7 linked regions of the Homo sapiens genome follow. The protein of the gene in region 1 purifies or fractionates together with the protein of each later gene. This does not show direct contact. Each region holds a gene or a part of one and is shown on either strand. Other genes may lie near its edges.

Evidence for each region.
Region 2: the proteins of CLEC2D (region 1) and B3GAT3 purify together in Homo sapiens (co-immunoprecipitation; 2 studies listed by BioGRID and IntAct, with this or other methods). This does not show direct contact.
Region 3: the proteins of CLEC2D (region 1) and POMGNT1 purify together in Homo sapiens (affinity purification with mass spectrometry; 2 studies listed by BioGRID and IntAct, with this or other methods). This does not show direct contact.
Region 4: the proteins of CLEC2D (region 1) and SLC7A3 purify together in Homo sapiens (affinity purification with mass spectrometry; 2 studies listed by BioGRID and IntAct, with this or other methods). This does not show direct contact.
Region 5: the proteins of CLEC2D (region 1) and ABCB6 purify together in Homo sapiens (affinity purification with mass spectrometry; 2 studies listed by BioGRID and IntAct, with this or other methods). This does not show direct contact.
Region 6: the proteins of CLEC2D (region 1) and LMBR1 purify together in Homo sapiens (affinity purification with mass spectrometry; 2 studies listed by BioGRID and IntAct, with this or other methods). This does not show direct contact.
Region 7: the proteins of CLEC2D (region 1) and SUSD1 purify together in Homo sapiens (affinity purification with mass spectrometry; 2 studies listed by BioGRID and IntAct, with this or other methods). This does not show direct contact.

The regions. Positions count from the first base shown.
Region 1 is NC_000012.12:9,693,713-9,696,882, forward strand, and holds part of CLEC2D (C-type lectin domain family 2 member D), read left to right. Parts: intron 1-1,047; coding exon 1,048-1,162; 3' UTR 1,163-3,170. UniProt on the Homo sapiens protein: Receptor for KLRB1 that protects target cells against natural killer cell-mediated lysis. Inhibits osteoclast formation. Inhibits bone resorption. Modulates the release of interferon-gamma. Binds high molecular weight sulfated glycosaminoglycans.
Region 2 is NC_000011.10:62,614,796-62,618,986, reverse strand, and holds the end of B3GAT3 (galactosylgalactosylxylosylprotein 3-beta-glucuronosyltransferase 3), read left to right. Parts: intron 1-1,639; coding exon 1,640-2,000; intron 2,001-2,190; coding exon 2,191-2,481; intron 2,482-2,746; coding exon of another isoform or gene 2,747-2,801; exon of another isoform or gene 2,802-3,187; coding exon 3,188-3,286; 3' UTR 3,287-3,691; downstream 3,692-4,191. Other genes in the region: ROM1 (rod outer segment membrane protein 1), read right to left, coding at 4,148-4,191. UniProt on the Homo sapiens protein: Glycosaminoglycans biosynthesis. Involved in forming the linkage tetrasaccharide present in heparan sulfate and chondroitin sulfate.
Region 3 is NC_000001.11:46,195,635-46,199,822, forward strand, and holds the start of POMGNT1 (protein O-linked-mannose beta-1,2-N-acetylglucosaminyltransferase 1), read right to left. Parts: upstream 2,801-4,188; 5' UTR 2,702-2,800; exon of another isoform or gene 2,417-2,701; intron 2,238-2,416; 5' UTR 2,188-2,237; coding exon 2,068-2,187; intron 1,916-2,067; exon of another isoform or gene 1,728-1,915; coding exon of another isoform or gene 1,674-1,727; intron 1,451-1,673; coding exon 1,336-1,450; intron 1,216-1,335; coding exon 1,097-1,215; intron 856-1,096; exon of another isoform or gene 667-855; coding exon of another isoform or gene 568-666; intron 444-567; coding exon 378-443; intron 291-377; coding exon 177-290; intron 1-176. Other genes in the region: TSPAN1 (tetraspanin-1), read left to right, coding at 568-666. UniProt on the Homo sapiens protein: Participates in O-mannosyl glycosylation by catalyzing the addition of N-acetylglucosamine to O-linked mannose on glycoproteins.
Region 4 is NC_000023.11:70,925,079-70,928,096, reverse strand, and holds the end of SLC7A3 (cationic amino acid transporter 3), read left to right. Parts: intron 1-76; coding exon 77-299; intron 300-473; coding exon 474-613; intron 614-712; coding exon 713-815; intron 816-1,055; coding exon 1,056-1,222; intron 1,223-1,403; coding exon 1,404-1,570; intron 1,571-1,918; coding exon 1,919-2,027; intron 2,028-2,153; coding exon 2,154-2,284; 3' UTR 2,285-2,518; downstream 2,519-3,018. UniProt on the Homo sapiens protein: Uniporter that mediates the uptake of cationic L-amino acids such as L-arginine, L-lysine and L-ornithine. The transport is sodium ions- and pH-independent, moderately trans-stimulated and is mediated by passive diffusion.
Region 5 is NC_000002.12:219,212,616-219,215,958, forward strand, and holds part of ABCB6 (ATP-binding cassette sub-family B member 6), read right to left. Parts: intron 2,468-3,343; coding exon 2,346-2,467; intron 1,884-2,345; coding exon 1,774-1,883; intron 1,572-1,773; coding exon 1,506-1,571; intron 1,337-1,505; coding exon 1,211-1,336; intron 1,052-1,210; coding exon 975-1,051; intron 888-974; coding exon 824-887; intron 712-823; coding exon 626-711; intron 451-625; coding exon 393-450; intron 1-392. UniProt on the Homo sapiens protein: ATP-dependent transporter that catalyzes the transport of a broad-spectrum of porphyrins from the cytoplasm to the extracellular space through the plasma membrane or into the vesicle lumen.
Region 6 is NC_000007.14:156,883,184-156,886,683, reverse strand, and holds part of LMBR1 (limb region 1 protein homolog), read left to right. Parts: intron 1-3,500. UniProt on the Homo sapiens protein: Putative membrane receptor.
Region 7 is NC_000009.12:112,043,291-112,046,297, reverse strand, and holds part of SUSD1 (sushi domain-containing protein 1 isoform 2 precursor), read left to right. Parts: intron 1-3,007.

The sequences.
Region 1 (3,170 bases):
CTGCTTCATAAATATCTAGAATTAACTTTTATTTCTTATTTTACAATACGGAAGTAGTAAATTTTCTCTACCTAATTCTTAAAATGGTTTTTTGTTTGTTTGTATTTTTGAGAGACAGGGTCTTACTCTGTTACCCAGGCTGGAGTGCAGTAGTACCATCGTGGCTCACTGCAGCCTTGACTTCCCTGGCTCAAGTGAGCCTCCCATCTCAGCCTCCTGAGTAGCTGGGACTACAGGTGTGTGCCACCTTGCTTGGCTTTTTTTTTTTTTTTTTTTTTTTTTTCAGCGATGGGGTCTCACTATGTTGCCTGGGCTGATCTTGAACTCCTGAGCTCAAGCAATCCTCCCACCTCGGCCTCCCAAAATGTTGGAATTACAGGTGTGAGCCACCATGCCTGGCCTCTCAAAATATTTTAAGGATCAAATATATTATTAACTAACCAGTTTTTGGAAACTGCTCATCACTTAAAGAAATGTAAAATATTATATGATTAAGGTCTAACAAGTTTCAACAATTAGCAAATTATATCATAGATGATAGTGATTCCAATGAGCAAAGAGGAAAAATTTATAATCCAAATGCTGACCTAAAATATCTGTGCCAAGCCATCTAAACTCAGCTAAATAGCACTGCAGTTTCAGTACTAAAACCACCAGGGAAGTAGGAGGAATAAAATCAAGCATGGTTTTTAGAAATAGCTGCTGAGTCTTCAGTTATTTAAGGAAGCAAAATATTGGGAAACTGTGTAAAGAAAACGTGTCAGACTTCTCCCATCAGCCAGCTAAGGCTTTGGATGTACTTGAAAGAATATTATGCTTACAGACATGAAATAGGTTTGATTCAGGACTTTGCAGTATTCCTATAGTTGATTTATAACATCTCCTGCTAAGCAAAGCCCACTGACTAATTAGTCACCACTACACAAGGAAAAACAGCATTATTTTTAGAGGCTGAATTAATGTTAGTTTTCTCATTTTCTCATCTTCATTCTCTCTGCTGTTGAAGAAATGTTCAGTGGCCAACTGATTCTGCTTCTTCTCTTGCAGGTTTCCTATCCTGGGAGCAGGAGAGTGTGCCTATTTGAATGACAAAGGTGCCAGTAGTGCCAGGCACTACACAGAGAGGAAGTGGATTTGTTCCAAATCAGATATACATGTCTAGATGTTACAGCAAAGCCCCAACTAATCTTTAGAAGCATATTGGAACTGATAACTCCATTTTAAAATGAGCAAAGAATTTATTTCTTATACCAACAGGTATATGAAAATATGCTCAATATCACTAATAACTGGGAAAATACAAATCAAAATCATAGTAAAATATTACCTGTTTTCATGGTGCTAATATTACCTGTTCTCCCACTGCTAATGACATACCCGAGACTGAGTAATTTATAAATAAAAGAGATTTAATTGACTCATAGTTCCACATGGCTGGGGAGGTCTTGCAATCATGACAGAAGGCAAATGGGAAGCAAAGTCATGTCTTATGTGGTGGCAGGCAGGGGGACTTGTGCACAGGAACTCCTATTTATACAACCATCAGATATCTTGAGACAAGAACAGTATGGGGCTCCCTGGTGTGATTCCGTCCTGCGCGGCTGTTCTCTGGAGCAGCATTCATTTATCTTCGTCTGCCTTGTCTCCTACCTAAGTGTGTGTCGCCACCCGATGGAAGATTCGATGGACATGGACATGAGCCCCCTGAGGCCCCAGAACTATCTTTTCAGTTGTGAACTAAAGGCCGACAAAGATGATCACTTTAAGGTGGATAATGATGAAAATGAGACCAGTTATCTTTAAGAACGGTCAGCTCAGGGGCTGGTGCAAAGGATGAACTGCACATTGTTGAAGCAGAGGCCATGAATGACGAAGGCAGTCCAATTAAAGTAACACTGGCAACTTTGAAAATGTCTGTACAGCCAACGGTTTCTCTTGGGGGCTTTGAAATAACACCACCAGTGGACTTAAGGTTGAAGTGTGGTTCAGGGCCAGTGCATATTAGTGGACAGCACTTAGTAGCTGTGAAGGAAGGTGCAGAGTCAGAAGATGAAGAAGAGGAGGATGTGAAACTCTTAAGTATATCTGGAAAGCAGTCTGCCCCTGGAGGTGGGCAGAAAAAAGTAAAACTTGCTGCTGCTGCTGATGATGATGATGATGAAGATGATGATGATGATGATGACGAGGAAGCTGAAGAAAAAGCGCCAGTGAAGAAATCTATACGAGATACTCCAGCCAAAAATGCACAAAAGTCAAATCAGAATGGAAAAGACTCAAAACCATCATCAACACCAAGATCAAAAGGACAAGAATCCTTCAAAAAACAGGAAAAATCTCCTAAAACACCAAAAGGATCTAGTTCTGTAGAAGACATTAAAGCAAAAATGCAAGCAAGTATAGAAAAACGTGGTTCTCTTCCCAAAGTGGAAACCAAGTTCATCAATTATGTGAAGAATTTCTTCTGGATGACTGACCAAGAGGCTATTCAAGATCTCTGGCAGTGGAGGAAGTCTCTTTAAGAAAATAGTTTAAACAATTTGTTAAAAATTTTCCATCTTATTTCATTTCTGTAACAGTTGATATCTGGCTGTCCTTTTTATAGTGCAGAGTGAGAACTTTCCCTACCATGTTTGATAAATGTTGTCCAGGTTCTATTGCCAAGAATGTGTTGTCCAAAATGCCTGTTTAGTTTTTAAAGATGGAACTCCACCCTTTGCTTGGTTTTAAGTATGTATGGGATGCTATGATAGGACATAGTAGTAGCAGTGGTCAGACATGGAAATGGTGGGGAGACAAAAGTATACACGTGAAATAAAACTCAGTATTTTAATAAAGTAAAAAAAAAAAAAAAGGTATGGGGAAAACTGCCCCCATAAAGCAATTGTCTCCACCTGGCCCTGCCCTTTGCATGTGGAGATTATTACAATTCAAGGTGAAATTTGGGTGGAGACACAACCAAACCATATCAGATGGCTATATCAAAAAGACAAGAAATAACAAGCATTGGTGAGAGTGTGGAGAAGACGGAACCCTTGTACACAGTTGGTGGGAACACAGTTTGGTGCAGCCATTATAGAAAACGTCATGGAGGTTCCTAAAGAAATTAAAAAGAGAACTACCATATGAGCCAGCAATCCCTTTTCCAGATATACACCCAAAGGAAATGAAAT
Region 2 (4,191 bases), on another chromosome or scaffold:
TCCCGAGATGGAGTCTCACTCTGTCGCCCAGGCTGGAGTGCAATGGCACGATCTCGGCTCACTGCAACCTCCACCTCCCGGATTGAAGCAATTCTCCTGCCTCAGCCCCCCGAGTAGCTGGGGTTACAAGCATGCGCCACCACACCCGGCTAATTTTTTGTATCTTTAGTAGAGATGGGGTTTCACCATGTTGGCCAGGCTGGTCTGGAACTCCTGACTTCGTGTTCCACCTGCTTCGGCCTCTCAAAGTGCTGGGATTACAGGTGTGAGCCACCATGCCTGGCCAGTAATTTTTTGTATTTTACTTTTGTATTTTTTTTTTTTTTGAGATGGAGTCTCGCTCTGTCATCTAGGCTGGGTGCAATGGCGTGATCTTGGCTCACTGCAAGCTCTGCCTCCCGGGTTCACGCCATTCTCCTGCCTCAGCCTCCCAAGTAGCTGGGACTACAGGTGCCCGCCACCACACCCAGCTAATTTTTTATATTTTTAGTAGAGATGGGGTTTCACCGTGTTAGCCAGGATGGTCTCGATCTCCTGACCTCATGATCCACCTGCCTCAGCTTCCCAAAGTGCTGGGATTACAGGTGTGAGCCACCATCCCCAGCTCTTATTTAATCTTTAAAACAACATTGTTATAAAGTACTGTTATTCCCATTTTACAGTTGAGGAAACTGAGGCTTAGGGAGATTGAGCCATTTTCCCAAATTGTCTCACATAATAAGTTACAAAACTGGATTTCAAACCCAGATCTACCTGATCCCAAAGCCTGTGCCCTTAATTTGTTTTTTTTTTTTTTTTTTTTTTTTTTTGAGACAGAGTTTCGCTCTTGTCGCTCAGGCTGGAGTGCAGTGGCACAATCTCGGCTCACTGCAACCTTCGCCTCCCGGGTTCAAGCGATTCTTCTGCCTCAGCCTCCCGAGTAGCTAGGATTACAGGTGACTGCCACCATGCCTGGGTAATTTTTTGTATTTTTAATAGAGACGGGGCTTCGCCATGTTGGGCAGGCTGGTCTCGAACTCCTAACCTCAGGTGATCCGCCCACCTCGGCCTCCTAAAGTGCTGGGATTATAGGCGTGAGCCAACATGCCCGGCCTTTTTTTTTTTTTTTTGAGATGGAGTTTTGCTGTTATCACTGAGGCTGGAGTGAAATGGTGCGATCTCAGCTCACTCCAACCTCCTCCTTCCAGGTTCAAGCGATTCTCCTGCCTCAGCCTCCCAAGTAGCTGAGATTACAGGCATGTGCCACTACACCCAGCAAATTTTTGTATTTTTTTAGTAGAGATGGGGTTTCACCATATTGGCCAGGCTGGTCTGGAACTCCAGACCTCAGGTAATTCACCTGCCTCAGCCTCCCAAAGTGTTATTATAGGTGTGAGCCACCATGCCCGGCCCTGTGCCCTTAATTTATAGTCTCCCACAGCCTGAGCTCTGGAGTTGAGGTGGGTGATGGACATGGACCAGAAGAACAGGGCAGGTGAGTGTTAGCATGAAGTTGACAGGCAAGAAAGAGGGAGTTTAGGCATTGGTTGGGAAGGGCCACAGGAGACGCAGGCAGTGGCCCAGGAGAAGCTGTCTGCCCTGGCTGGAGCAGGCAAATGGTGCCTGCCCCTTTTCCTTGTGCTGCATCTCTCCCCTGCAGGCTGGTACAGAAGGCAGAGCTGGTACGACTGTCCCAGACACTGAGCCTGGTGCCCCGGCTGCATTGGCTGCTGGTGGAGGATGCTGAGGGTCCCACCCCGCTGGTCTCAGGGCTGCTGGCTGCCTCTGGCCTCCTCTTCACACACCTGGTGGTCCTCACGCCCAAAGCCCAGCGGCTTCGGGAGGGCGAGCCTGGCTGGGTTCATCCCCGTGGTGTCGAGCAGCGGAACAAGGCCCTGGACTGGCTCCGGGGCAGAGGGGGTGCTGTGGGTGGGGAGAAGGACCCACCACCACCAGGGACCCAAGGAGTCGTCTACTTTGCTGACGATGACAACACCTACAGCCGGGAGCTGTTTGAGGAGGTGAGCACCAGGATGGGGATGGGCAAGAGACCAGGTGCGGCCAGCTTCATTCGTTACCTTGGTTAGCAGTGTTGCCGTTGGCTGCTGGGTGAGGGGCTGGAAGCAGTGGGGCAGAGTGAGCCAGGTGGCTCTTTCTGCTGCTCCCTTCCCCGGACCACCCCTCTGTTTCTTCTCTCCCGACCTCCGTTAGATGCGCTGGACCCGTGGTGTCTCAGTGTGGCCTGTGGGGCTGGTGGGCGGCCTGCGATTCGAGGGCCCTCAGGTACAGGACGGCCGGGTAGTGGGCTTCCACACAGCATGGGAGCCCAGCAGGCCCTTCCCTGTGGATATGGCTGGATTTGCCGTGGCCCTGCCCTTGCTGTTAGATAAGCCCAATGCCCAATTTGATTCCACCGCTCCCCGGGGCCACCTGGAGAGCAGTCTTCTGAGCCACCTTGTGGATCCCAAGGACCTGGAGCCACGGGCTGCCAACTGCACTCGGGTAAGGGAATGGAGATGGGCATAGAAACCTGGCTCTTGGATGGACAGGTGATGGGGGAGGTACAGTGAGACCCTGGGAATGGGTGGTTTAACCAGGAGGGACTCTCCAGATCTCTGATCAGCCTTGCTGACTCTACTGAAGGGGAAGCTGGGAACTAGCGGGGGAAAGTGGTCTCCTGCCACTCTGCCCCGAGTTCTGGGAACCCATGTGGCACAGAGAGGATGAAGGAATAAGGCCCTGTTTGTTGTTTTTTTTTTTTTTTCAGACAGAGTCTCGCTGTGTCACCCAGGCTGGAGTGCAGTAGCGCAATCTTGGCTTAGCGCAAGCTCCGCCTCCCGGGTTCACACCATTCTCCTGCCTCAGCCTCCCAAGTAGCTGGGACTACAGGCACCCGCTACCACGCCCGGCTAATTTTTTTGTGTTTTTAGTAGTGACGGGGTTTCACGGTGTTAGCCAGGATGGTCTCAATCTCCTGACCTCGTGATCCGCCTTCCTCGGCCTCCCAAAGTGCTGGGGTTACAGGCGTGAGCCACGCGCCCGGCCAAGGCCCGGTTTTAGAGGCACTAAGTCTTCCTCCACCCTGCCCTTTACACTTTGAAGCCTATACTGTATATGTCGATAGGGTTAGAGAATCCATTCCAGGCTCGGGGACCCAGAGGCCTGGCTGCAGCTGGGCCTGGCTCTCACTGCATCCCTCCTGGCACAGGTACTGGTGTGGCATACTCGGACAGAGAAGCCCAAGATGAAGCAGGAGGAGCAGCTGCAGCGGCAGGGCCGGGGCTCAGACCCAGCAATTGAGGTGTGATGGCGGCCCCACCCCAACTACCACCTCTTTTCAGGCACAGACCTTGTGGGACTGGGCCCCAGGCCTGCCCAGGATGTGGTTTTCCAAGTCCTGACCCTTGGAGCCAGAAGTGGCCCCTCTGCCCCTCCAGGCCCAGGGCATGGTCCTGCTGCTTCACCCCTCCCCTAGCCTGCCGTGTGGCACTGCCCACAGGCTGGGGACAAGCAGCCCTTGTGTTGAGTCAGGTTGGCCCTGTCTAGGGTGGAACAGAAGGACAGATGGACCCAGGAGGGAGGGCAGCTGAGTAACTGGGTAACTTATTGGGGCTGGGCATGCACTGGGGGGCTGGAGGAGCTGGGCTGGACCCTTCCCACCTGAGCATGCTGACCCCCTTCCTACCTCCAGAATAAAGAATCTCAACCTGGAGGGGCCTCTTGTTTTCCTTTGCTTCTTACATTGGGTTCTTGCTTTCTGATCCTTACAGATGTGGGCTCCTGTTGCTGCACAGGTCGAGCCAGGGTCCAAACTTTGGAGTCCTAGCTGCTCCATCAGACAGAAATCAGTTCTCCCAGGCCCCCATCCCCTTGACAAGAAAAAGCAATTGCTTCCATCCAAAAACTTTATTGAGTCTATATCAGAATCAGCCTCCAGGCCTTCTCATGTCACTTTCCCATCACTCTGTTCTTTGCTGTTCCCTGGTGGTTCTGACTACAAGGGCTAGGCCCTAGGACATCTGGTTTTCTTTCTTACCCCAGTCCAGCTCGCTGACTATCCTTAGCCCCTCTAATCCTACGATCCCCCCAACCTGGAGCCTTGGTAAGGAGTTGTGAGGTTTTCAGACTTGTCCATCCCTCCCTCTTCCTCACCCCAAGCTCCAGGCCTCTAGGCCTCAGATAGATCCTCCTTGGGAGGTGCTTCTCCTGGTG
Region 3 (4,188 bases), on another chromosome or scaffold:
CTGTTGCTCAATAACTATTTGCTGAATTAATACAAATGTTAAGGCTGAGATTGGAACCTGAGTAACCTTCCTTCAGAGAATCTTCCCACTATGTTATATGAGGGGCAGAGAAGCCGGGGCTAGAAGCAGGGTTGGAGCTAGGGAGTAGGGGTCAGGGTCAGGACAGAATAACTGACCTTGACAGTGCAGATGAGCACTCGGCCGGGCGCTACCATGTTGAGGAATAGCACCATGGCCTCATCCTCATGAGGTGAGTACGTGTCAAACACACGTTTTGCCATCACGTGGCCCTGGCAGGGGATATACTTCTGGTGAGTTGGTGTCATCAGCAAGAGCCCAGCTCCAGCCCTCTGGGTCACCCACCCCTAGAAACTCACCGTGGCCTGGTTGAGGACAATGACATGGATGCCCCGGCCCTGCTCCCGGGCCTCATCCTCCAGCACCTACACAGTGGCAGAGACAAAGTCCAGCTTTTCACTCTGGCATTCAAGGTGTCTCTGTCTTAGGGGTACTTAAAACACCAGCTGCTTGAAACATCACCTCCTGCCTATGTTTCTGTTCACACAGTTCTTTTCCAACTCAGCTCGAAGGCCACCTCTTCCAGAAAGCCTCTATAGCACTCCCATCAGAAGAGATCACGTCTTTCTACAACCCTCCCCTCCATGACTTTCATGGCTCTTAGAGCCTCTGCTGTCTCTGCTTCATCCTGGAAGTATCACAATCCTCCACCACACTGAACCCCTCAAGGTAGGGCCAGGTCTGATTACTTTCAGGTCCCCAGTGCCCAGCACAAGGCTGAGGCCAAAGAAAGGACCAGGGGATGGTTATAAAATAAATCAATGAATTGACTGCCTACTATTATGAATGATTACTTTTGAGATCCCACTACATACAAGACACTTCACAAACTTTTCATTGAATCCTGACAAGTAGAAATCATTAGTCCCAGTCTATAGATAAGGAATCGAGGACTCCAAAGTCACACAGCTAGAAACTGGCAGAGTTGCAGTTCCCACTTAGGCAGTAGACCCTGCTGCCAGTGGACCATGCCCTGAGCAGAATAGAGTGACTGTACACCAGACCCTGGCCCACTGACCGTGGTGCCATCCACTGCCACATATACTTTGCTGCGACTTGAATACACCTCTACGTCCAGGACCCGCCGGGGACCACTGCCTCTGCGCCGTGGGGGCTCCAGGCGGCCTAGGGCCTCATCTGTGGGGTACAACAGGTCATGGAGATAGTCTCCTCAGCAGAGTCTCACCGCTTAGGGTCTGCCTGCCACTCCAGCTGTGAGATCCAAGGCCCCCTACCCCATCCTTAGCCTAGCCCTACCATAGTCTTGCTCTGGCTCTGGGTCTTCATTGGCTTCACTGATGGCTCGCCGAGTGTCCAGGATCAACTTGATATTGACAATGACAGTCACCAGCAGGAAAAGCACGGCCCCTGTCTGAGGGGAGGGGTAGGGATGATTAAGAGGAGCACCTCCTTCAGATCCTAGAGGGTCTTTCTGAAAGGAGGGCCCTGGCTGCAGTGAAGACATCCAGAGAAACTGGGTCCTGTCCCTTCCTCTGTCTGCCTAGCTCTACTCCCCTGACCAGGGCCTAGTTTCACAGCCACTTTCCCCAGGGAACCTCCCCTGACACTTCCCCCTCCATTAGGGCCCTCCCTACCCAGTGCTCCTGTATTCTTCTATTTGAGACCTTGATTTCCTTGGTCCCCTCCATTGTTGGTTTCTAGAGATGGAGCCAGGCCCAGGGACCCAAGCGGGGGATCAGACCTGGGTCCTGGCCCTAACTGCCTCACAGGGGTGTGCCTCTCTGCAAAGCCAGCCTGATCAGACTTCAGGCTTCCGTCAGAAGCTTAGAAGTTGTACTTGGGTTCCGATTCCAGAACTTTGGGTTCAAATCATTACCTATAGGGACATGACACATAGAGGTCTCCCCTCTAGGAACCTGCTGCCCCTTTCCCACTGGGGCTGGCCAACAGGGGTCCCAGTGCCTGATTTAGGTGGGGAGGAAGCTGGGAGGGAGCGCTCGGTGGGGAGGGTTTGGGACATCTCTATACCTGACAGAATCTCCGCAGGGCCCGCTGGTTTGTCAGTTTATACTTCCAGGTAAGGTACCAGCTCCGCTTCTTCCGAGCCCCAAAGGGCTTGATGAGGGGGCTGGGCTTCCAGTCGTCCATACCGGATTGGCGGGTCACCAATGTCCTGGCCAGCCCATGACTTCAGGAATCTGAAGGGACCAGAGGGCCACATGGGGTAAGATGCTCCTCCCAAAGTCTGATGCCTTCTGGGGAGATGAGGGAGGACCTCCCAGCAACTCTTCCCTGCAAGCACCCATACTGTGTGACATGGGGAAAGTGGCTCAACTTCTCTGGGCTGGCAGGAAACCCTTCAGTGGGGTTGGATCACCTGGAAATTCCCTGAGACTGGAGTAACTCTCTGAATCAAGGCTGTCCAAGGGTGGAGGCCAAATAATCGGCTCAAAGTTCGTTAGCCCCTACAAGGACCAAGTTCCAGGCCTTCCCAAGCCTGTGGTGAGCAAAGAGCGACCTCTCCTGCCCCAGTCTTCAACCCTCGTCCCATCCTATCTGCCCCAGCTTCTCTCCTCCTCCCAGGGCCCGGAGCCGCCCGAGGGCTCAGGAGACCTGCACCGGCAGCGCTACCCGTTCCGGACACCCACGCGGAGGCACTCACGGCTTAGGGGCCCCGGGCCCCGCTCGGGCCCCGCTAGGGCCCTCACTGCTCGGCCCGGCTCGCCGCGGCCTCCGCCTCCTCCATGCCGCTTGCGGCCCCGCCCCGGCCTGGCCCGCCCCCCCGCTTCCGCCGCCGCCGCCGCCGCCGCTGCCGCGGGGTGAGAGGGCGACGGGCGGTGCTTAGGGCGGCGGCGGCGGCGGCGGCGGTGGCGGCAGCGGCGTCGGGGTGTAAGCAGCCAGCGAGTAAGGCGAATGCTCAGACCGTGCTAGGCAGCTTCGCAGCCCGGCTGGCTGGTGGGGCTGCCTGCACGAGAGCAGCCCGCTCCCCAGCACCGCCGATGGCAAGCCCGACTCCAGTCAGAGGCCTAGCACCTTGGACCAGATCACAGGGCACGCCAGGGTCAGAGGGGCTGCAACCCTTGGACACAGGGCACACACCACCCGCCCCATACCCGTCCTGGGCAAGGCCGTTACCTAGTCCTGGGGCATGCACAGCTATTGGAGGCCAAGGGAGATTAAAATCCAGGTTCTGTCACTGTTCTAAGCACCTTACTGATGATGTTTAATTCCACAACAACCCCATGAGGTAGGCGCTATTATCATTATTATTGTTTTTTTTTTAATTGAGACGGAGTCTCGCTCTGTCGCCCAGGCTGGAGTGCAGTGGCACCATCTCGGCTCGCTGCAACCTCCGCCTTCTGGGTTCAAGCGATTCTCCTGCCTCAGCCTCCTGAGTAGCTGGGACTACGGTCGTGCGCCACCACACCCAGCTAATTTTTATATTTTTAGTAGAGACGGGGTTTCACCATGTTGGCCAGGCTGGTCTTGAACTTCTGACCTCAAGTGATCCGCCCGCCTTGGCCTCCCAAAGTGCTGGGATTATGGGCAGTGAGCCACCGTGCTGGCTATAGGCGCTATTACTATCCCTGTCGCAGATAAAGAAATAAGACCTAATATCACAAAGCTAGGAGAGGTGGAATTGAAACTCAGCCTAGCTCCAGATTCTGCTCTTAACCACTGCACTCTGCTGGCAACAATACATAAGAATTGCCAGGTTTAAATAACATCATACATAGAAAGCAGTTAGCTTAACACAATGGTTCTCAAACTTTAGCTTGCGTCAGAATCACCTGGATGACTTCTTAAAACAGAGGTGCTGGGCCCCATCCCTAGAGTTTTAGATTCAGTGGTCTGGGGCAGGGTGGGATTTTGCATTCCTGAGAAGTTTCTAGGTGATGTTGATGCTTGTTTGAAGTGGATAGCCATAGAACAGTTTTAGGCAGGGGAGCAATATAATCCAATTTCTGTTTTAAGAGAACCTTTACTTTTTTTGTGGAGAATGGGTTGGAAGCAGACAGAGGAAGCCAGAAGACCAGTTAGATTTTTTTGAGCTTTCTGTATTCCATCTGCTTCCTGAATGGTGGGGTAATATCCCCCAAAATGAAATGTTAACAGTACTTGTCTTAGGAGTTAAAGAAATACATGATT
Region 4 (3,018 bases), on another chromosome or scaffold:
CAGGCTGTATGCAGACTGGGGGTGGTAGAGGAGTGGGCCTGCTTCCCTAATTTAGAACCTTACGCCCTTCCTTCAGGAGAAGAAGCCCAGAATCCCCAGCGTTCCATCCCGATGGGCATTGTGATCTCACTGTCTGTCTGCTTTTTGGCGTATTTTGCTGTCTCTTCTGCACTCACCCTGATGATGCCTTACTACCAGCTTCAGCCTGAGAGCCCTTTGCCTGAGGCATTTCTCTACATTGGATGGGCTCCTGCCCGCTATGTTGTGGCTGTTGGCTCCCTCTGTGCTCTTTCTACCAGGTCAGTATCAAATGTTTGTTTTCTTCTGCTGTCAGAGTCTCAGGTTATAGCATTCAGTACCAGAGAATACCCCTTAAAAGGGCTGTGAGGGGAAAGTGGAGACTCTTTAAACATACAGTCTTGGGAAGAGAGATCCCAGTCAACTCATGCCACCCTGGGCATTCTCCTCTCCAGCCTCCTGGGCTCCATGTTCCCCATGCCTCGGGTGATCTACGCGATGGCAGAGGATGGCCTCCTGTTCCGTGTACTTGCTCGGATCCACACCGGCACACGCACCCCAATCATAGCCACCGTGGTCTCTGGCATTATTGCAGGTAACAGACCCTCTTTCCCCTTCCCTTAGTTGTTTCGCCAACTTCTTTAACTTTGCCACTCCCTTCTCTCATTTCTTGTTTCCTGCCTATTAATTTTAGCATTCATGGCATTCCTCTTCAAACTCACTGATCTTGTGGACCTCATGTCAATTGGGACCCTGCTTGCTTACTCCCTGGTGTCGATTTGTGTTCTCATCCTCAGGTGAGACTCTTCCTCTGCATACTGTGATTTGGATTTTTATTCTTGGATGAGGAATGATGGAGATCTGCTCCTCTTTCCTCCTTCGCCTTCATTATTCCAACTTTCTTTGAGGAATCTGGGTATCTCACCCTGCCAAAAAGAACTTCCCTTAATGGTGATGAGGAAGGTTAAGCTGCCTGGGAGAAGATGATAAAGTGAGTAAAGGTTGTTCTTAATACTGCCATCTTACTTTTGCCTCAGGTATCAACCTGATCAGGAGACAAAGACTGGGGAAGAAGTGGAGTTGCAGGAGGAGGCAATAACTACTGAATCAGAGAAGTTGACCCTATGGGGACTATTTTTCCCACTCAACTCCATCCCCACTCCACTCTCTGGCCAAATTGTCTATGTTTGTTCCTCATTGCTTGGTGAGCAGTGGAATTTTTCTGGGGTGGCTCTGAGATCAGCGTGATTGGGTCGAAGTGTGTGGCATTTGGTGGCTGAGGAAGAACTAGAGAGAGAGCGACTCTCCTTGGAACAGGGTTTCTAATGTCTTAGCATGTTGGTCTTAAGAGTTGGTTTTGATGTCTCTCAACTTGACCTTTGAAGCTGTCCTGCTGACTGCTCTTTGCCTGGTGCTGGCCCAGTGGTCAGTTCCATTGCTTTCTGGAGACCTGCTGTGGACTGCAGTGGTTGTGCTGCTCCTGCTGCTCATTATTGGGATCATTGTGGTCATCTGGAGACAGCCACAGAGTTCCACTCCCCTTCACTTTAAGGTAAATGAACTCTGTCTTTTTTCCTTGCCAGCCCATCTTGGGAGAATAGGCTCCAGATATCTTGAGGTCTAATAAAGTTCATAGATATTCTTTAATTGAACATGAAAGGGAAGATATAGGAGGTACCTAGGCCAAAGACTTCTTCTCTGACCCTCTTTAGTTCCTTTCCAGTTCCATTTACCCAAACTGCATATTCTTGGAGTCTCATGAGGTATGCTAAATGAGCAGCTACTGAAATGCAGAGGACAAGTAAGAGTTGGACTCACCCTTTTCTGGCCTGCATAGGATAGGGATCTCTTTCTAGGTCAACCTGTGGTATGTACAAAGAAGATTTTACTTTGTTTTCAGGTGCCTGCTTTGCCTCTCCTCCCACTAATGAGCATCTTTGTGAATATTTACCTTATGATGCAGATGACAGCTGGTACCTGGGCCCGATTTGGGGTCTGGATGCTGATTGGTAGGTATCCACTTGGGAAGAGTAGGCTTCTTTGGTGTCCTAGCCCAGCTCCTTTCCCTCTTGGTCTCAAGTAGGAAACCTATGAAGCCTTTACACCCCCACCTCACAGCTACCTTTCCCCACTAGGCTTTGCTATCTACTTCGGCTATGGGATCCAGCACAGCCTGGAAGAGATTAAGAGTAACCAACCCTCACGCAAGTCTAGAGCCAAAACTGTAGACCTTGATCCCGGCACTCTCTATGTCCACTCAGTTTGACATCGTCACACCTAAATGCTGTCTGGTCCCCTGCACAATAATGGAGAGTACTCCTGACCCCAGTGACAGCTAGCCCTCCCCTGTGATGGTGGTGGTGGATACTAATACAGTTCTGTACGATGTGAAGGATGTGTCTTTGCTATTTCTTGTCTATTTTAACCCGTCTGCTTCTAAATGATGTCTAGCTGCTTACCAACTTTAAAAAATGATATTAAAAGAAAGTAGAAAAATAAACTGTGTCCTGTTTTTTGCTTGCTAAAGATGTAGAGCCTGACTTTTAAGAGTGAAGAGCCTCAGAGAAGTGTCCTTTGTGTTTTCTTCAGTTACCACAAAAGCATCTGCTGTGCCTGTGGGTGCTTCTTGTTGAATCAGGGTTTGAGGAGGGTGGTGTAAGTAGGTAGCCATCCAGTCCAGTCACACTTAAAGGAATGGTCTTGAGATATGTTTTCCCCTCATTACACTTAAGGTTAGGTTCTGGATAAGTAGACAGCAACACTTGTCTCTGGGATTTGGGGTGGACTCTGATAGCAACACTGACATTGGTTAGGGCCTACACTGAAACTATTGGCTTCTGTTCCACCTCTTCTAGTTGGACCAGTCCCACACTCCTGTAACTGCCTGAGCATCAGAAATTTTGGCTGCGGTGTTTGGCACTGCTGGGAGGAGGGGTGGATAGTCAGGGGGTTTGGTAAGGGACCACATATATTAATATATGGATACTGTTTGCTGCAGAA
Region 5 (3,343 bases), on another chromosome or scaffold:
AGGTTCAAGCGATTCTCTTGCCTCAGCCTCCCTAGTAGTGGGATTATAGGCACCCGCCACCATGCCCGGCTAATTTTTGTATTTTTAGTAGAGATAGGGTTTCACCATGTTGGTCAGGCTGGTCTTGAACTCCTAACCTTAGGTGATCTGGCCACCTAAGCCTCCCAAAGTGCTGGGATTACAGGCATGTGCCACCGCAGCCGGCCGAGGCCCACTGGCTTTTGAGGTTCCCTCTCCAAGAGGTCACCAGTGTCCATGGAGGCTGCACCATTCAATCCGGTTGCCTATCGTGACTGGGCTCTCTGACTCCACAGCCTGGGTCACAAGCTACCATGGGCACTGAATGAGGGAAGCTTGAGGCATCTGGGCCAAGTGGCTGGGTCTCCTCTCACCAGGGCAAGTGTCTGTCCAGGCATCACAGTGAAAGACACGTCCTGCAGAGTCTCCCGCCTGCAAGGAAAGGTGGGGTTGCTCAGCAGGCACCTTCCATCACCAGAGCTGCTAGTAGGCCCTGCCCCTCCCCTGCCCAGGCTCTTTTCCAAAAGCAGGGATTCAGAGCACTGAGAAGCAGGAAGGCAGTGTGCAAATGAACGGAAAAGCAAAGGAAGCAAAAGGAAGGCCTCACCCATCGGCATAGCTGAAGTGCACGTTCTCAAACTCAATACGGCCCTTCTGAAAGCGAAGGGGCCCTGCTCCAGGAAGGTCCTTCACCTGGAAGGGCACCACCCATGTGTGCTGAGGTTCTCAGCTTTGTGTTTTCCAAGCACGAGAAACACCACACAGCTCCTCCCTCCCCAAACCCTACTCCTCTCCCTTCGCTCACTTCTGTCTCCTCTTTCAGCAAGTCAAACATGTTCTCCATGTCAATGAAGTTGGTCTGGATCATCCTGCAAAAAGGTGCTGGTTAGGACTTCTCTGAGTAGCCAGGAAATAATAATGTGCCCTGGACAGGTGAGGGCCAGGGCTCAGATTACCTGTAGTAGGTGCCAAACCAATTGAGGGGCATGTACAGCTGGATAATGTAGGTGCCAAAGAGCACATAGTCCCCAACCTGTGGCAATCAAGGAAGCAGAGCATGTCACGGGGGGCCTGCAGGCCGCTCTTCTTGTGTCACCCTGCCCACTTCCTACCGAAGAGCCTGGTGACCAGACACAGGCCTCAGGCCCCCTTTTCCTTGTGCCCCACTCTCTCATCCAAGATCCTGCCTCACCTGTAGCTTCTGCTCAGTGACAAAGTATGCGCAAAGCAGGGAGCCGGCGAGGAGCCCGAGCCCAATCACCAGGTTCTGGGTCTGATTTAGTAAAACCAGTGAAGCGCTCGACTTCCACTCCAAACCCTGAGGGCAATAACACAGGAAGAGGAATGTCCTATACACAATGGCCATCAGTGAGTCCAAACCTGGGCCCAGGCCCCTTCTACCCCAACACTCGACTATCACTCTTGGCCCTGAAAATTCTACCAGGCCAGGGCATTATTCTCCGGAGGCCTCAAACTAGCATCCTCACCTGATATTTGATGATGGCCTCTCGATAGCGTTCCACTTCGTAACTCTCGGCGTTGTAATACTTCACCTGATGAATTCAAACCAAATTTATTTGGCATGGGCACAGCACATGGCACTCGGGTCATTCCCCCCAACTCTCAATCCTCCTTCCTGAGTTCAAACATCACACACAAACATCACACCCCCAGCTCTCTGTCAGCCCCAGTGGTCCTGGTTACACTCCTCCACATCTCCACGCCTCACACCACTGCCACCGGGCCCTCTGTTACCGTCTCGAAGTTTAGCAGAGAGTCCACTGCTCGTGCCCGGGTAGCGTTCTCCTGTGTGTTCATAGCACGACGAAACTTGGTTCTCCACTCAGTGACCACAATGGTCAGGGCTGGAGAGTGACAGGATGGGGAGCAGAATAGGACATCATCCCCAAAAGCAGAGACCAAATGTCAATGTCCACTACCTGCCATGTACACACTAAGCCTATGCTCAAGCCCGGACACCCAGATTCCACAGGGAGGCACCTCTGCAGCCTGCACAAAGTCTCATGTGTAGAAAACGCTTTTGGTAAATGAAAGCAAGCTGCATCTTGTTACACAAACGAGGCTTCCTTGACCTGTGTCCACGGCTCAGACTTAACGTGACAAGAATGTCCTTCCCCAGCCCCTCAGCTAGGTTAAGGTTTGATTTGACAGAAGAGACCCGCCCATCACATGACGAGCACTAGGAGCCCATTCAAGTCCACCAATCCACAGCCTCCCATAGGTGGGTCACTTGAGTGGGGGCACAGCTCATGGCCAAGGGAGTCCCTGGATAGTTCAGGGAGACGGTGTCTCCCAGCAGCACTCACTGAGGTAAAGACTCATGCACAGGAACACAATGAGGCCAAACCAGGCGTTGAAGAACATGCTGAAGTAGATGATGCCAATGATGATGTCGGCCAGCGTGGGGATGACATTGAACACCAGGTAGCTAGGAGGGCAGGTCAAGTGAATAAGAAAGGTCTGGGGGCTTAGACCCAGCAACCCTGCCTCTAGGCATTTCAGGGTAGTGTTTTATTTTCAAGCAACAGACTGGAACCAGTCTTAATTAATTCTACCCTCAAGAGGTGGGTGGCTAAATCAACCATGCTCAAACTACAGAATTCTCTGTATCAATTACAATGAATGAGGGAGACCTTCAGGCATGGAAGAAAAATATATCTCCATAATGTTCTGTTAATAAGCAACTCTGAGAATGATGGCTATGTCACAATACCATTTGTTTTAGGAAAAACCTCCACAATGCCATATTAGTTCTGTGAGTCTGCATATATAATATGTATGTAAAAATGCAAAAAAGCAGAACCCAGCTGGGCACAATGGCTCACAACTGTAATCCCAGCACTTTGGAATGCTAGGTGGGCAGATCACATGATGCTAGGAGTTCCAGGCCAGCCTGGCCAACATGGTGAAACCCTGTTTCTACAAAAAATCTAATAATTAGCCAGGCATGCTGGTGCACATCTGTAATCCCAGCTACTCAGGAGGCTGAGGCAGGAGAATTGCTTGAACCCGGGAGGCAGAGGTTGCAGTGAGCAGAGATTATGCCACTGTACTCCAGCCTGGGTGACAGAGCGTGACCCTGTCTCAAAAAAAGAGCAGAACCCAACATACTAAACAGAGTGGGAAGCTCTGAAAAAGTAAGTGCAGCTCGAAAGAGATTTGCCCTCTGCCCGCATTACCTAAGTTATTAGGAGAGCATGTATACAATAATCCTATACTTTAAAAAACACCAAGGTGGGAGCGGCAGCTTCTCAGGCGGGGTCTGTTCTCTTCCTCCCACGGGCCCCTATCCCTGCTTCTCCGG
Region 6 (3,500 bases), on another chromosome or scaffold:
TCCAGATAAGCAATATTAAGATAACTGCAGCTCACTCACTGCCAGACCCTAAGTGATCCCCACTCTCCTGTTCCACAAGCCATAACTATAGCTTTGATTGGACAAGAGACTGATTTCAGTAACTTTCTCCTGATAAGAGCACTGAGCATGAACTGGTTCTGGCCAGTTTACAGAGGCTGTGCACTTCAGTGCCTTCATGTCCCTGCTTCGCCATCTGACTACAGGGCCTCATTGTAATCCTTTTAGATGTTAAGTCTCCACCCACAAGTGAATATGGATAAGTATGTAACATACATGTTTATTCAGCCTGCATGTGCATGACCTCCCCCACTTTGTGAATATTCATAGCTCCTCCTATAACCTGTTAAATATATAAACTTGGCCAACCCGTTCAGCATAAATCCCTGTTCTATCCTCCCTTGAAGGTCTGTTTCTGTGCTCTGCGGGAGGATGCTTCCCAGCTATCAGGATTGCCACCTTGTAGGCTGTGACTCTTTACAAAATTATTTTTGAGGCAGAGTGTGGTTCCGTCACTCAGGCTGGAATGCTGTGGCACAAACACGGCTTACTGTAGCCTCTATCTCCCAGGCTCAAGAGATCTTCCTACTTGAAGGAAGTCTTTTTTTTTTTTTTTTTCTTTTTTTGAGGCAGAGTCTCACTCTGTCACCCAGGCTGGAGTGCAGTGGCACTATCTCAGCTCACTGCAACCTCTACCTCCTGGGTTCAAGCAATTCTTGTGCCTCAGCCTCTTGAGTAGCTGGGATTACAGGTGCCACCACCATGCCTGGCTAATTTTATTTATTTATTTATGATATGGAGTCTCTGTCACCCAGCCTGGAGTGCAGTGGCACAATCTCGGCTCACGATAACCTCTGCTTCCCGGGTTCAAGTGATTCTCCTGCCTCAGCCTCCCAGTAGCTGGGATTATAGGTGCCTGCCACCATGCCCGGCTAATGTTTTTGAATTTTTAGTAGAGGCAGGGTTTTACCATGTTGGCCAGGCTAGTCTCAAACTCCTGACCTCAAGTGATCCTCCTGCCTTGGCCTCCCAAAGTGCTGGGATTACAGGTGTGAGTCAATGCGTCTGGCCATTTTTGTATGGACGGGTTATTTCCGTGTTACCCAGACTGGTCTTGAACTCTCCTGGCCTCAAGTAATCCTCCTGCCTCAGCTTCCCAAAGTGCTAGAATTAGAGGTGTGAGCCACCATGCCTGGCCTGGCTGCGCAATCTAAATTCTTCCTTATCCTGGGTATGGCTTAAGCTCCCCTCTTGGCTAGAATATTTTTGGAACCAAGTCTGGGGTTGACTGGGACTTTTTTTTTTTTTTCTTTTACACGGAGTCTCGCTCTGTCACCGAGGCTGGAATGCAGTGGAGCGATCCTGGCTCACTGCAACCTCCGCCTTCCAGATTCCAGTGATTATCCTGCCTCAGCCTCCCAAGTAGCTGGGATTACAGGCGCCTGCCACCATGCCTGGCTAATTTTTGTATTTTTAGTAGAGATGGGGTTTTGCCATGTTGGCCAAGCTGGTCTTGAACTCCTGACCTCAGGTGATCCGCCCCTGCCTCGGCCTCGCAAAGTGCTGGGATTACAGGCATGAGCCACCGTGCCCAGCCAGACTGGGACTTACACAACAGAGATTTTAGAACCTTCCCATTTAGTTGGCTCCTTTTAGGCCAAATGGGAGGTGGGGAGATAATGGGGATAGAAGTATCCTTCATCTACTGCCTCTCTAGATGAGTTTACCTGCTGTTTTCTACTGGTGTCTTGCCCTCAACTCTATGGCTTACCCTTTATGCAGGAGATAAAAAACTTTAGTCCTTCCCACTTGGGAATAGTGGTTGGGCAGAAGGTGGGAACCAATCACCAATCTTGTATGTAAGTTCAGAATGCAGTTATCTTGGAGTCTGTAGTCTTCTGACCTTTGTCATTGCCCTCCAGTGAAAGACCTCCAAGAGCACACCTGTAGTTGGACAAATTGGGCTTATTGCATATTTCAGTGAGTTCCATGGGGAACTGTGGGGTGTTTCAGTAACTTTTCAAATGGGATTTGGGCTTCTACTAGGTAGTTTGGGAAGGGTTTAAGGAAGTGAGGCTTTGATCTGTATGGGGTGCTGTTAGGAAGCTGGAAAAATTCTGTAACTGGATAGCTTAAGAAATCTTTTCTAGAAGGAAAGAAGACTGGAATAAAGCTAAAGCTGTAACTGGTAAAGAAGCAACAGTCATTCCTGTTAGCCAGGATAGAGAGTTGGTCATTTCTGTGATTTGGACAATGTTCATGTTTTTTTTTTTGCTTGTGTTCAGGAGTGATTACAGAGTGGTCTTGTTTAGTCTTTATCCATCATGGTCTTGTCTGATATTGATGTTCTCTGAAATTGTTGATGTTCAGCAGAAGAGTCAGTCATCAAGGCCTAGGTGTGTGCCTTGCTCTGAGTTGTTAGCCAGTTTACAGCAACACCAAGGCCCAGCTGTGATATTACCAGGCCAGCTCCCAGATGTCAGGGGCTGCATTTCTTTTTCTCACGTGGTTGTAAAGTCTTCTAGTGGAATGATGTATTAGAAACAAATCCAATAGCCAACATAAGTTGAAGTGATTTTCTAACATAGAAGAGCAAAAAGGAATGGGATAGAGGTATAGAGGTTTCATTTGTATTTGACTTTTCTAAACTGGGTTAAATCAGCTTCCCCTCTGCGGTAGGCAGCATAATGGCCCCTGAAGTTGGTAATCCATGTGGTAATCCCTGGAGCCTGTGGTGTGTTACTTTACATGGGTAAAGGGATTTTGCAGATGTGAGTATGTTAAAGGAGAATTACCCTGAATTATCCAGGTGGGCTCTATGTGGTCACAGGGTCCTTATAGGAGAGGCAGGAGGGTCAGAGTCAGAGGAGATGTGATGACAGAGGCAGAGTTGGAGTGATGCCCTTTGAGGAAGGAGGAGGGACCATGAGCCAAGGAGTGTGGGCGGCCTCCAGAAGCTAGAAACGTCAAGGAAATGAATTCTTTCCTAGAGTCTCCAGAAGGAAGCAACCTTGCTCACGCCTTGATTTTAGCCCAGTGAAACTCAATAAATTTGTGTTGTTTTAAGTCACAAAGTTTGTGTAATTTGGTTACAGCAGCCATAGGAGATTCCTACTCCTTCATCAGGAGGCTTTGACTTTCACTGCTGTCCCTGTATATCTTACCACTCCATAGTTGTGTACTTGAGGTTAAAGGAAACTGGGACATTCTAATTACATTTGAGATAATTTTTCATGTCTTCCTATTCTGTCCTCCTTTTTTTTTTCTGAGATGGAGTCTTGCTCTGTTGCCCAGGCTGGAGTGCAGTGACATGATCTTGGCTCACTGCAGCCTCCGCCTCCCGAGTTCAAGCAATTCTCCTGCCTCAGCCTCCCAAGTAGCTGGGATTACAGGTGTGCACCACCACACCTGGCTAATTTTTGTATTTTCAGTAGAGACAGGTTTCACCTGTTGGCCAGGGTGGTCTTGAACTCCAGACCTCA
Region 7 (3,007 bases), on another chromosome or scaffold:
GTAGGGTAACCAAAGGATGGTGAGGCTATAAAAAATACAATTCAAATTTGCCAGTTGTAAATTTTCTTATTAAGGAATTAATGAGGAAAGTCTCTAAAGAAGCTTGTGTGGCAACACTTGTGAGCACTCTTGATTAGATTGACTCAGATTTTTAGAGTATATATGCAAAGTAGACAAAAAGACATATAACCAGGAACTGATCTACCAGCAAGAATCATTCCTGGAGCCAAACCCAAATTGTGCTATGCAGAATAAATAAAGATCATTTTCCAATACTATGTCTAGAGTAAGGAATAGTTGTGCCCAGGTAGATCCTGCTGGTGGATGGTCAAGTGAAAGTCAGCTTCCTTAACTCCTACTTAGCTTTTGTCCTCTTCGTTTGTGAGGGGATAGTTAGAAGAAAGAAAAGAGCTTGCTACCCTACATAGGTTCAAGTCTTCCAACATGGATGTAGCGTATTCTGGCAGGTTCATACAATTTTCACATGAGATGGATAAACCATTGCAAATGATCTTCAATAAACCTTGAAGAAAATGGAGAGATGTAAGAGGACTAGAGATGAGCAAAGAACAAGGAACTTTGTACAAAGGAAGAACCACCAGAAGTGTAGATGATGGTAACTTGAAGTCAAGGCAAAGCAAGGTCTTCAAGTGATGGCTTGTGTATCCCTGGTAGAAAAAACAGCAGTTCCCGGGAGTCAGGAGCTTTAAGAGCAGATTAGGTCAGATTGCTTTCCATTTCTTCTTGCACAGAGTCAGTAATTGGTCAGGGAAATATGGCACGCATAATAACAATAATGTCCTTGTGGACAATGTGGGGACATGAGAGCTGTATGTGGGCTTAGAAACAAGCTGAATGGCTATGCACAGTTGATATCAACTCATTAACAATTATTGATGAGTTGAAATCAAACCCAAGAATATGCATGATATGGATTTCTGTCCACAGTCATCTTCAGTTCAACATATTCATCAATCAGTGATTAAAATATACAGAGGGTTAAAGTGTAGAGGAAAAAATACACAGAAAAAAACTTGATGTCAGAAGTTGGAAGGAATACTGGGTAGATCGGATGAAATGCCAGTGCAGTAAAGTACCAGCTCCCCCGTTCATCTCCAGAATTGTATTTTCTCTTAAAAACAAAACAAAACAAAACAAATCTAGTTAATTAGTCCACCAAGATGGCATTTAAAAAAATGTTTCTGAGTCATGCACAAAGATGGCATCTTAATGCCTTAATTTGCATTTTTATTACTTGTAAGAGAGCATTTGCTCAAAGTTTTATTGATCATCTGTAATCATGTTTTTCATGTGATTTACCTTTTCGTAGAATTTTCTCATTTCGCTATTGAGGTATGTCTTTATTAATCTGTAACACTCTCTGTATGTTAACTTCTTGCCCATTATTCTAGATATTTTATCCAGCTTGCCATTTGCCTTTTAATCTTGCTTATGGTAGTTTTTGGTATAAGAAGTGCATGCTTTTTAAAGTGGTTAAATCTCTCATTCTCTTAAGGTTTCTGTGTTAACGAATATGCTTAGAAATTTCTTACCCCCTTTAATATTAGGTAAATATTCACTAACATTTCCTAATCCTTTTAGGTTTCAATTTAAGTCTGTAATCCATCTGGATTTTATTTTGATATATGGTGTAAGCTCTAGTGATCAAAATTATTTGATTCTAAATGGTTAGCCAATTTTCTCAGCACTGGTTATGAAAAATTTATCATTTCCCCAATGATCTGAAACAGTATCAAAACAACAAAAACAATAATAATTAACAATAGCTAACATTTGCTTATTGCTTATTCTGTGCCAGGCACTGTTTCAACCTGTACTAACTCACTGACTTCTCCCACTACCTAGAGGTGGGTAGTATTGCTATCATTCCCATGTTATTACAGCATCCCTCAGTGTGGGGACTGAGACACAGAATGGATGAATAACTTGCACAAAGTCACACAGGCAGTGGTGGTGTTCAGATAAAGACTTGGACATCTGACTCCAGTATTCAAACTTTGAAAGTATTTGATATGCTTGGATTTGTTTCTAGGCTATTTTGTTCCAATGTATTCATTCCTATTCTAATACTGCACTGTTTTACTGTCTTGCAATTCAAGTCACTCTCCTAATATTTTTTCTTTACTAATTCTTCACTTAATCACTGTTTCTCCTTCCATTTTATAATCTAGTTTCTTGGCTGGGCATGGTGGCTCATGCCTATAATTCTAGCACTTTGGGAGGCCAAGATGGGCAGATCGCCTGAGGTCAAGAGTTCGAGACCAGCCTGGCCAACATGGTGAAGCCCTGTCTCTACTAAAATACAAAAACTAGCCGGGCGTGGTGGAGTACACCTGTAGTCCCAGCTACTAGGGAGACTGGGGCAGGAGAATCGCTTGAATCCGGGAGGTGGAGGTTGCAGTGAGCCGAGATCATGCCACTGCACTCCAGCCTGGGTGACAGAGCAAGACTCTGTCTCAAAAAATAATAATAAATAAAAATAAAATAAAACAAAATAAGTAATCTAGCTTCTTAAAGTGTCAAGGCCATTTTTCTTCTATAGACTAAAAGCAACCAAATAATATAAGCCATGTTTTCTAGAAAGGCTCTTGGCAGCATTTTTTGAGAATTAGTAACCGCCCAATGAGTTTTCCTTGCCTGCTGCCTAGACAGAGCTGATTTATCAAGACAGAGGAATTGCAATAAAGAGCTTAATTCACACAGAGCCAACTGTATGGGAGACTGGAGTTTTATTATTACTCAAATCAGTCTCCCTGAAAATTCAGGGATGGGGTTTTTAAGGATTACTTAGTGGGTAGGGGGTAGGGGATGGGGGGGTCAGTGAGTCAGAAGTGCTGATTGGTTGGGTTGGAGATGAAATCACAGAGTCGAAGCTGTCCTCTTGCACTGAGTCAATTTCTGGTTGGGGGCCACAAGATCAGATGAACCAGTTTATGGATCTGGGTGATGCCAGCCGATCCATGGAGTGCAGGGTCTGGAAAATATC